Regions from separate parts of the Homo sapiens genome. Here region 2 is linked to region 1. The links come from fine-mapping of genetic effects on gene expression. A gene starts in region 1. The other region holds a variant in brackets. All regions are shown on one strand. Distances are between the middles of the regions. Region 1 holds the start of ACTL8 (actin like 8). Region 2 overlaps ACTL8 (actin like 8).

What was found. PIP is the estimated chance that this variant, and not a neighbour inherited with it, causes the effect.
Region 2: its variant is the best candidate, but not a certain one, in a credible set for the expression of ACTL8 in prefrontal cortex (GTEx, PIP 0.74).

Annotation. Positions count from the first base shown.
Region 1 is chr1:17,752,811-17,757,203 of GRCh38, reverse strand. ACTL8 (actin like 8) reads right to left here and starts at 1,871. Exons shown (of 3, transcript NM_030812.3): 1 at 1,700-1,871.
Region 2 is chr1:17,824,102-17,828,494 of GRCh38, reverse strand. It overlaps ACTL8 (actin like 8), which reads right to left. Exons shown (of 3, transcript NM_030812.3): 3 at 1,432-2,728. The coding sequence ends at 1,976. Among named protein-coding and RNA genes, the nearest start is that of ACTL8, 71 kb to the right of the region's middle. RefSeq lists an enhancer at 1,878-2,467. The variant G/A (reference allele first, on the strand shown) is at 2,408.

The sequences.
Region 1 (4,393 bases):
AATGGACCTGGGCTTGTCATTTTCTATGTCATTATCTACACATTTTTCAAATTCTTATTATATTATTATTTTTTAGAGCTAGGGTCTTGCTCTGTCACCTGGCTACAGTGCAGCGGTGCAATCATAGCTTACTGCAGCCTCAAACCCCTGGGCTCAAGCAATCCGCCTGCCTCAGCCTCCCAAAGTGTTGGGATTAAAGGCCTGAGCCACCATGCCTGTGCCCGGCCTGCCTATGTATGTTTTAAATAGAGCATAGTATCTGGTTCCTTGAAGACAGGAGCCCTCAAAAGGATCCATCCCACCCCACAGTTCTCACAGTCCTCATTATGGCCACACAGTCAAGTGCAGCATCACTCTGGCTCCCAACAGACGTGCCTCAGGTGGCATTTTGTCTTAACCGCAAATGATAGACTCATATAATGTCACCACATGCCTTGGGTAACTAGCACCCCATTTCCCATTGGCAAGGAACTTGACACTACACCCAAGCCCAAAATCACCAGAAAACCACTCCCAAAATGGTACCTCTGTGGTTCCATCTCCTGATACCTATTCCTGACACCAATTCTGTATCAGTTTGGGTCCAGTCAAGGAAAGGACACCATACAGTGATTTTTACAGGGAAAGTTTCATATGAAGAATTATTAACTTATAATAGAGAACTGAATTAACAAGAAATTGACTGATAAGGAGTAAAGAGAACGATAATTAATACAGAAACAGCAGACGCAAGGAGCAACCACAACCCACAGAGCTGAGATGGAGTCTCTGAAGACCAGACCCCATCCAGAGCTGTGATAAACAACCCCCCGCTAAGAATCCCCCAAACCAGAGCTGGACAAAGCTCTCAAGGAAGAACCCCTCAAGGCCAAGGTAGAGTCCCCAAGAAAGAGCCCCTGGGGGCTTTCATAGGTTCCCCAAAGATAAGTCCCCCACTAGAGGTTTAAAAAAAAGTTCCCAAGAAGAGGCCCCCAGGGCTGAGGCCCCCTGGGAAGAGCCCCTATTCAAGGGATAAGATAGAGCCCCAAAGAAGAGCTCCCAGAGCTACCAAGGAAGGGGCCCCCTACCCAGGGCTGTGATTGATCCCCCAAGGAAGAGTCCCCTCCGAAGGCTGAAATAAAGTCCACAAAGAAAAAGCCCCTGAGGGCTGCGGTAGAGTCCCGAAGAGACACCCTCCTGCCACCTGTGACAGAGTAAACGTCCTCAAAAAAAGAGCCCTCCCAGGGCTGACGTGGAGCCCCCAAGGAACAGCCCCCCACCCCAGGACTGAAATAGAGCCCCAAAAAGAGACCCCCATATCAGGCTGAGATAGAGACCTCCAGAAAGAGCCCCTCACCCCAGGGAAGGGACCCTCCACCAGGCTGAGATAACCCCCTCCAGGCGGTGCCCCCACAAGGGGCTAAGCTTGGGCCCCCAAGGAAGGGCCCCCAGTCCCACACATGTGGCTGAGGTACAGCCGCTATGGAAGAGTCTCCTCCAAAAGCTGAAATCAAGTCCCTAAGGAAAAGCCCTTGGTCTGAGGTAGAGCCTGTCACTCCCCAACCCCACAAAGAAGTGCCCCACACACAAACCCTTGGGGGCTGACAGCCAGGCCTTGCTTAAGAGGGCATGGCTGTGCCACAGGAAGGACAAAAAAAAAAAAAAAAACAGTCAGGGGCCACAACCAGCCAAAGTTAGAAATTCAACTTTTAGAACGTACCAGAAATCTGCCCTGTAAGATGCCACAAAAGCTGCTCTCAGAAACAGTGTCTCACAAGAGGCACCCACTGCAAAACAACTTGAAAGGGGTGCTGTGTGAGCTGCCGAACTCAGCTGCACACTGCAAACGCCTGCACGAGAGCGGCTGCACGTGGTGCCGCAGCCTACTCTGTGAGCACGTGGCAAGCAGGAAGCGGAACCTCCCCGCTGCTGGGGCTCCCCAGCGCCCTCTACTGGCAAAGCCCAGCATGCCTGCTGGCCAGGGAGAAAATTTAAAGGGCCCAGATCCATTTTTACCAAGCAGGCAAGAAGGGTGAATGTGGAGCGGAGAGGCAATAATTTGACAACCAGCAACAATGAAATATCAGCAGTGAAAAAGAAAATAACTACTGATACATAAAACAAATGCATTAATCATATACGTATTATGCTGAGTAAAAGAAACCAGACGCAAAGCAGCACAATCTGTAAGTTTCCATTTACATTATGCACAAAATTCTCTGAAAAGAAATTTAGAGGAAAGAGACTTTAGTACAGAAAACAGTTTGCAAACTTGGAGATGCACCCTCCACTGGAAAATGAAGGGGAGTTCCCAAGAATGAGGGAAGCATCAAGTTTTGCGCAAAAGTTCCTGCCCAGGTTCCCAATCAGATCAAGATGTGCAAATGAAGGATTGAAACTTGCTTAGTTCTGATTGGTCAATATAGCTGAGCTCTCATTGGTTGATACAGCCAAACCCTGATTGGTTTATACACTTGAGCCCTGATTGGTTGGTTCAGGTGAGCTGAGAAAGTACCAAAGATAAAAAGGTGCAGGTTTTCTGGGGAAGTCAGGGTAGTTGTGTAACCATAGTCAGCAAGTGGCTGCTTCATTCTATTTTAAATTTAGGCCCACTTACCCATTCTTATTTGGGGGGGGGGTAGTATTTATTTATTTTGTAGAGAACAGGGTCTTGGTATGTTGCCCAGTCTGGTCGTAAACTCAGGGGCTCAAGTGATCCGCCCACCCTGGCCTACCAAAGTGATGGGATTACAAGCAAGAACAGCGGAGCCTAGCCCACTTAGCCACTCAGGATCCATCTTGAAGGTCTGGCCCTTTCAGGTTCACATTTGTTCACAGAAGTTCAAGAACAGGCAAAGCAACCTACAGTGACAGAAATTAAAAAAAAAAAAACAGGTGGAGATGGGTGTATTTAGCTGGAAGAGGGCACAATGGAATTTTCTAGGGCAATGGAAATACTCTCTATTGCAATTGGGGTGCTGTATACATTTGTAAAAATTCATCATACTGAACACTAAGATCTGTGTGTTGCATTGTAGATAAATTATACCTCAATTTTTAAAAATTAGCCCCCAAACTTGGTTTCAAATCCAGTCACTGTGTACTACCTGTACACAGTGGGTGATATGGTTTGGCTTTGTGTCCTCACCCAAATCTCACCTTGTATTTTAATAATCCCCACGTGTCAAGGGTGGGGCCAGGTGGAGATCATTGAATCATGGGGGCTGTTTGCCCCATACTGTTCTCATGATAGTGAATAAGTCTTACGAGATCTGATGGTTTTATAAACGGGAGTTCCCCTGCACAAGCTTTTTGCCTGCCGCCACGTAAGACGTGACTTTGCCCCTCCTTTGCCTTCCACCTTGATTGTGAGGCCTCCCCAGCCAAGTGGAACTGTGAATCCATTAAACCTCTTTCCTTTATAAATTACCCAGATTTGAGTATGTCTTTATTAGCAGCATGAGAACAGACTAATACAGTGGGTAAACAAATATTGTTGAATAAATAAGTGCACACATGAATCACACATTCTTTTTGCTCCCTCACAGCAAATTTCTGATGGTTCCCCCAAATTACTAAGCTATTGGCCTGCTTTTCTGGGCTCCCATAGTCCTCTCCTCTTAGTCCGGTTGCAGCTTTTATTACACTAATGTTAGCTTCAGAGAGGCAAAAATCTCTGCTTCTACCAGAGAACCCAGCATGTCTTGAGTGCTCTGTGCCTGACACTCTTTTCAAACTCTCATAGGACAATAATCTATGCGGTAGTTACTCCTATCATCCCCATTTTACAGATGAAGAAACTGAAGTATAGTTTGTCCTAGGGCCCACACTCTTTATCACTTTGTCTTGGAAGTCAGACCATCCTAGGTGCAAATCTCAGCTCTTCCACTTACTAACCATGAGTCTTGGGCAGGACAACTGACTGATGCAGGGCAGGCAGGCCCCAAAACAGAGCTTAGCCCATGAGGGTTCTTGGCTTCCTCCAGGCAAAAATTCAAGGGCGAGAAGAAAGTGTAGAAGAAAGCAGAGCTTTATTGAAGGGCCAGTGATAAAGCTCCAGTCTTTGACTGCTCCTGCAGAGCAGGGCTACCCCATAGGCAGAACAGCAGCTCAGGGCAGCCTCACAGTCGTATTTATACCCATGTTTAATTACATGGAGATTAAGCAGTGGTTTATACAGCAATTGCTAGGGAAAGGGTGGTAACTTTTGGGTTGTCAGGTCATTGCCATGGAAAGGGGTGGTAACTCCTGCATGTTGCCATGGCAATGGTAAACTGACATGGCCTACTGGTGGATGTGTCTTATAGAAAGCTGCTTTGCCCCCTCTATTTTAGCTAGTCCGCCATTTGGTCCGGTGTCCAAGCCCCACATCAGGAGTCAAGTCCTGCCTCCCACCTCATGATCACTCTGAATC
Region 2 (4,393 bases), 71 kb before region 1:
CCTCAGTAGCACGTCACAGCTTCAAAGTGAGTTCTCATCCCCTATCTTAGTTCATCTTCAACTCCAAATCTCTGAGAGAAGGTGGTTATTACTTCCTATTTTATACTTGATAGACTCAAAGAGGTTAAATAACTTGCCCAAGGCAGCTCAGCTCATGATAGGGCCAGCCTGAAACTCAATCTGACACCAAGTCTGGGGCTTGCACCAGGCTGGTTCTGAGTTGGTCTACCTAAGAATTGTTATTCCAGGCCCCCACTCTTTTCCCTGGGGACTGCTGATGCTTCAAGTGTGGGAGCAAACACATGAGAATATGGCTCATGTGTTCAAAGACAAGGTGAGTTGGACTCTGCCCTCCAAATTCCTCTACTTGCCCTGAGATATCTGGGTTCCTTGAGCTTCAGTCTTCCAAACTACACTTGTTACTCTATTCCAGCTCTTAACATTAAGGAGCCAAGAATCCCTTTCAGAAACAGCTGGATAACACTGTGGTTGAGAGTCCAGGCTGGGTTCAAACCCCAGTTCTGGCACTTAACAGAAAACACATTTTATTAAATAAATAGTATATTGTGGCTCCCTTCTCTGTATTAGTCAGAGTAAGCAAAACAGTTGCTGTAACAAACATCCCCACACTCTCAGTGGCTGAACATAGATTCCTCATGCCACAGGCTAGTGTTGGTGGGGTTGGGCAGGGGTTTCTGCTCCACCTAGGCACTCAGGCTCCTTCCATCTGCAGCATTTGCCATCCATCCCCTAGGGCTTACACGTCCTCCCCATTGACCCATCCCACAGGCTGTGAAGGAGTATTTTTAAGGTCAGGTGCATGCCAACTGAGCCAGAACTCAGCCACCTGGCCCTATATAACTGCTGGAGACTTGGGAGCATTGCCTCACAGTGTGCCGTGGAAGGAGAAGACACAGTTACTGATGGTCCCTAGCAACCTCATCTCAGTCCACTCCATTGAAAGTGGCCATCCCTCCACCTCCAGATCACATGACCGTGTCACATTTGATTCATTTCATTCTTCATCATCAGAAATATGTTTACTTATATACTGTCTACAATAGATCCCACAGGAGGCTGTAAGCTTGAAACCAGAAACCTTGTACATCTTTCTCAAGTCCCCAAGGTCCAGCACAGCTCCTAAAACATGCTAGGTACTTGAATATGCATCAGATATATACCAAACAAATACGAATAAGAAGGGAAACTTTAAACAGAATATTGGGACACCTGGGATGGATGGATAGAATGTGGCAGTGAAAGAACACGGGGTCCAGACCCTTGCCTATTCTGCTCAGTGGCAGCCACTGTTCATAGGCCCCAGACACCTCAGAGCCCGCCCTGGCCCCCACCTGGCTCTCTCACACTTACACTCCCTAAGTCTCCCCAAGGGGCTGCGCACCCTACCCCCATCCATCACAGGAGCCAGCATTGCTTCCAAACAAGCTATTTATTTGCAGATATAAAACAAGATCCAACCACGGGTGGCAAGGGCATCCCAGGCTCACCTGCAGCAATGCCTCCCTGGCCAGAAAGGGCCTGTAGGACCAGAAATGTCAACTGTCCCCCATCCCCTAGTCAAAAATAATTGGGACTCCTAGCAGGAGTGCTACCCCAGTTAAAACCTACTCAACCAAGAAGAATGAGACAAACCAGGGGAAATGCCAATGAAAAATCAGTGGCTCTCAGGCATGGAGATGGCAGTCAGCCACTCATACCCCAATGATAGGCCACCCTGGAAAAACTGTCCCCTGCAGGGTTTCCAAGGATGACATCTTGTCTTCCCCCTTGGGTAGGTCCCACTCTTGCAACAAGATAAAACCTTAGAACCTAAAAAATACCCTCATGCCCCTAGAATTCCAAAGCCAGCTCACCCCACCCCACCTCATTCTACCCCCACCCAGAACATTTTGCTAAAATTAATCCGCCCGTGCCCATCTAACAGGAGCCCATTCTCAGGAGTGAGCCAGTAGGGTCACATCCTCATATGCTCACCATACTCCTCTCGGGACATCCACTCAGACTGGTAGGTAGAAAGGTGAGCCACCACGGACGCTCCTAGCCAGACACTAAAGTTTCTATTGGAACCCTCCCAGACTGTGGCCTTGGTGGAGGAGACGTGATCCCCCATCAGCTCCCTGAACAGGCGCTTTGTGAACCCGGGATAGAGGGTGTTGCCCCCGCAGGCCATCACGTGGGAGACCAGCAGGGGGCGCAGGGAGATCTCGCAGGACTCCACGGATTCCACAATGGCCCGTGGGATGCTGGGCCCCGGCTGCTCGAACACCTGCGGGCTAAAGAACATCTCAGGAGCCACCCGCTGCATGGGGGTCAGCTCCACGCGGGAGCCGTCTGGGAGCTGATAGGTGTTGCTCTCATCCAAGGCACTCTGCTGCCTCTCACGAAA[G/A]TCCAGGGCCTCCCCCAGATTCTGCGGCACGTAGCACTTGTTCATCTGAGTCACGGCGACTGTCTCCAGCTGAAACAGGCAGCGTCTATCGCAATCTTCCTTAAAGAGACTCTTGAGGAGATAGGCGGAGAGATCCTGGCCGGCGAACTCCAGCGTCTTGCCGCTGGCGGGCAAGGGGCGGCCCTGGTGGAAAGGCTGCACGCGGGTCAGGCCATAGCCAGAATCAACCACCACTCCGGTCAGGAGGCCAGAGGCATACAGGGACATCTGCAGCTGGTCGGCCAGGAGGACCGATGGGACATGCAGCAACTCAAACAGGATCTGCAACGAGGGAGAATTCACTCAGTGCATTTCCCCCCAGCCTGCTCAGCAGTCAAAGCTGAAGTCAGCACAGAGCCCCATCCTCGGGGGGACTCTCGGGCTGCCCCAGGATGCTGCGCCCAGGGCCCCTGGAGCTTATGCAGTGAGGATAATGCAGCAGCTCTGGAGGATTAGAAGGGGAGCTGGGTTTGCCCTCAGGAGCTTGTCTGGTCGTGGCTGTTCAGAAGACCACTTCGGTGAAGAGGTGAGAAGAGCTCTGTGGCTGCAAGAAATGGTTCTGGGACACTGGCTGCAGGAGCAACATGGCCACGGGTCACATGTGCAGCCTGAACCGCCTCTTTAGAAGGAAGAACAGATTAGAAAAGAAACAAGTGTTGCGTATTCACCACTGTCTCCAAACAGTGGAGGAAGACTGGAAAAGACAGACCAGAAAGATAAGACAGACAAGAAAAAAGACGCCAGAACGAAGGAAAAAGGAAAGGAAGGAAGAAAAGAAAAGAAAAGAAAAAAGAAAAAAAGGGAAAAGATGCTCACTGCCTGGCAGGAAAAGCCTTATTTTTTCTTTTAAATAAAAACCTTACAAACGTCAAGACAAACCCGGAATTCTGGTATTTAGGGTTTGCCAGAGTCCCTGGGCTGGTTTTCTCCCCCTGCTCCTCACCCCCTGAATCTTTACAAAGCCCCCCTGCCCCCCATTCCTCAGCTCTGGCAGCCTCCCCAAGGTTCTAATCCCATAGAAGCAGAAAGATCCTAACAGTCAACCCTTCTGTGGTCCCAGCCACTTACTCACCTCTTCAAGCCCCCACAAGCCCATCGTCTCCCCTCAGTGGGAGGGGGCTCCCTCCATTACTACTCTCAGAAAATTGTCCCCCCACCAGCCATTTCTCAAAATAGCAGCCAAGGTCCTCTTTTTCAAATAGAAAATCAGATACAACTCCCCCATTTAAAACTCTCCATTTAAAACTCCCCAGGAACTTCCTATTCACTTAGAGCAGTGGCTGGCAAGCATTTTCTGTAAAGGGATAGACAGTAAGGGTTGCCAAATTCAGCAAATAAAACTACAGGATGCCCAGTTACATGTGAATGTCAGATCAATAATAAATAATATTGTAGTGTAAGTATGCCCCATGCAATATGAAACATACTTAAATACTAAGACATTATTTGTAATTTATCTGAAACTCAAGTCTAACTAGGCATCACGTATTTTACCTAGTAAACCTACAATAGTAAATATTTTAGCCTTTAACTTGATGTATGGTCTCAAACAGTCTCTGCTGCAACAACTTAACTCAGATGCTGTCGTATGAAAGCACACTCTGCCAAACCCTAAATATCAGAATTCCTGTTTTGTCTTCATGTTTGGAAAGTTTTTATTTAAAAAATAATAATAGGGCTTTACCTACCAGGCAATGAGCATATGTTCTTTTTTCTTTCCTCTCTCTTTCTATCTTACATAACATATAAATGAATGTGTGTGGCTATGTTCCAATAAAACTTTATTTACAAAATAGGTGGTGGGCCGGATTTGGCTCACTGGGTTGCCAATCCTTGATTTAAAGTAGAATCCAAGCACTCCCCACAGCCTACCAGGCCTACAAGGCCCAGCCTCCTCCAACCTCACCATCCTATTTGCCTCTTGCCGCTCTTGCTGCTGAAATCACC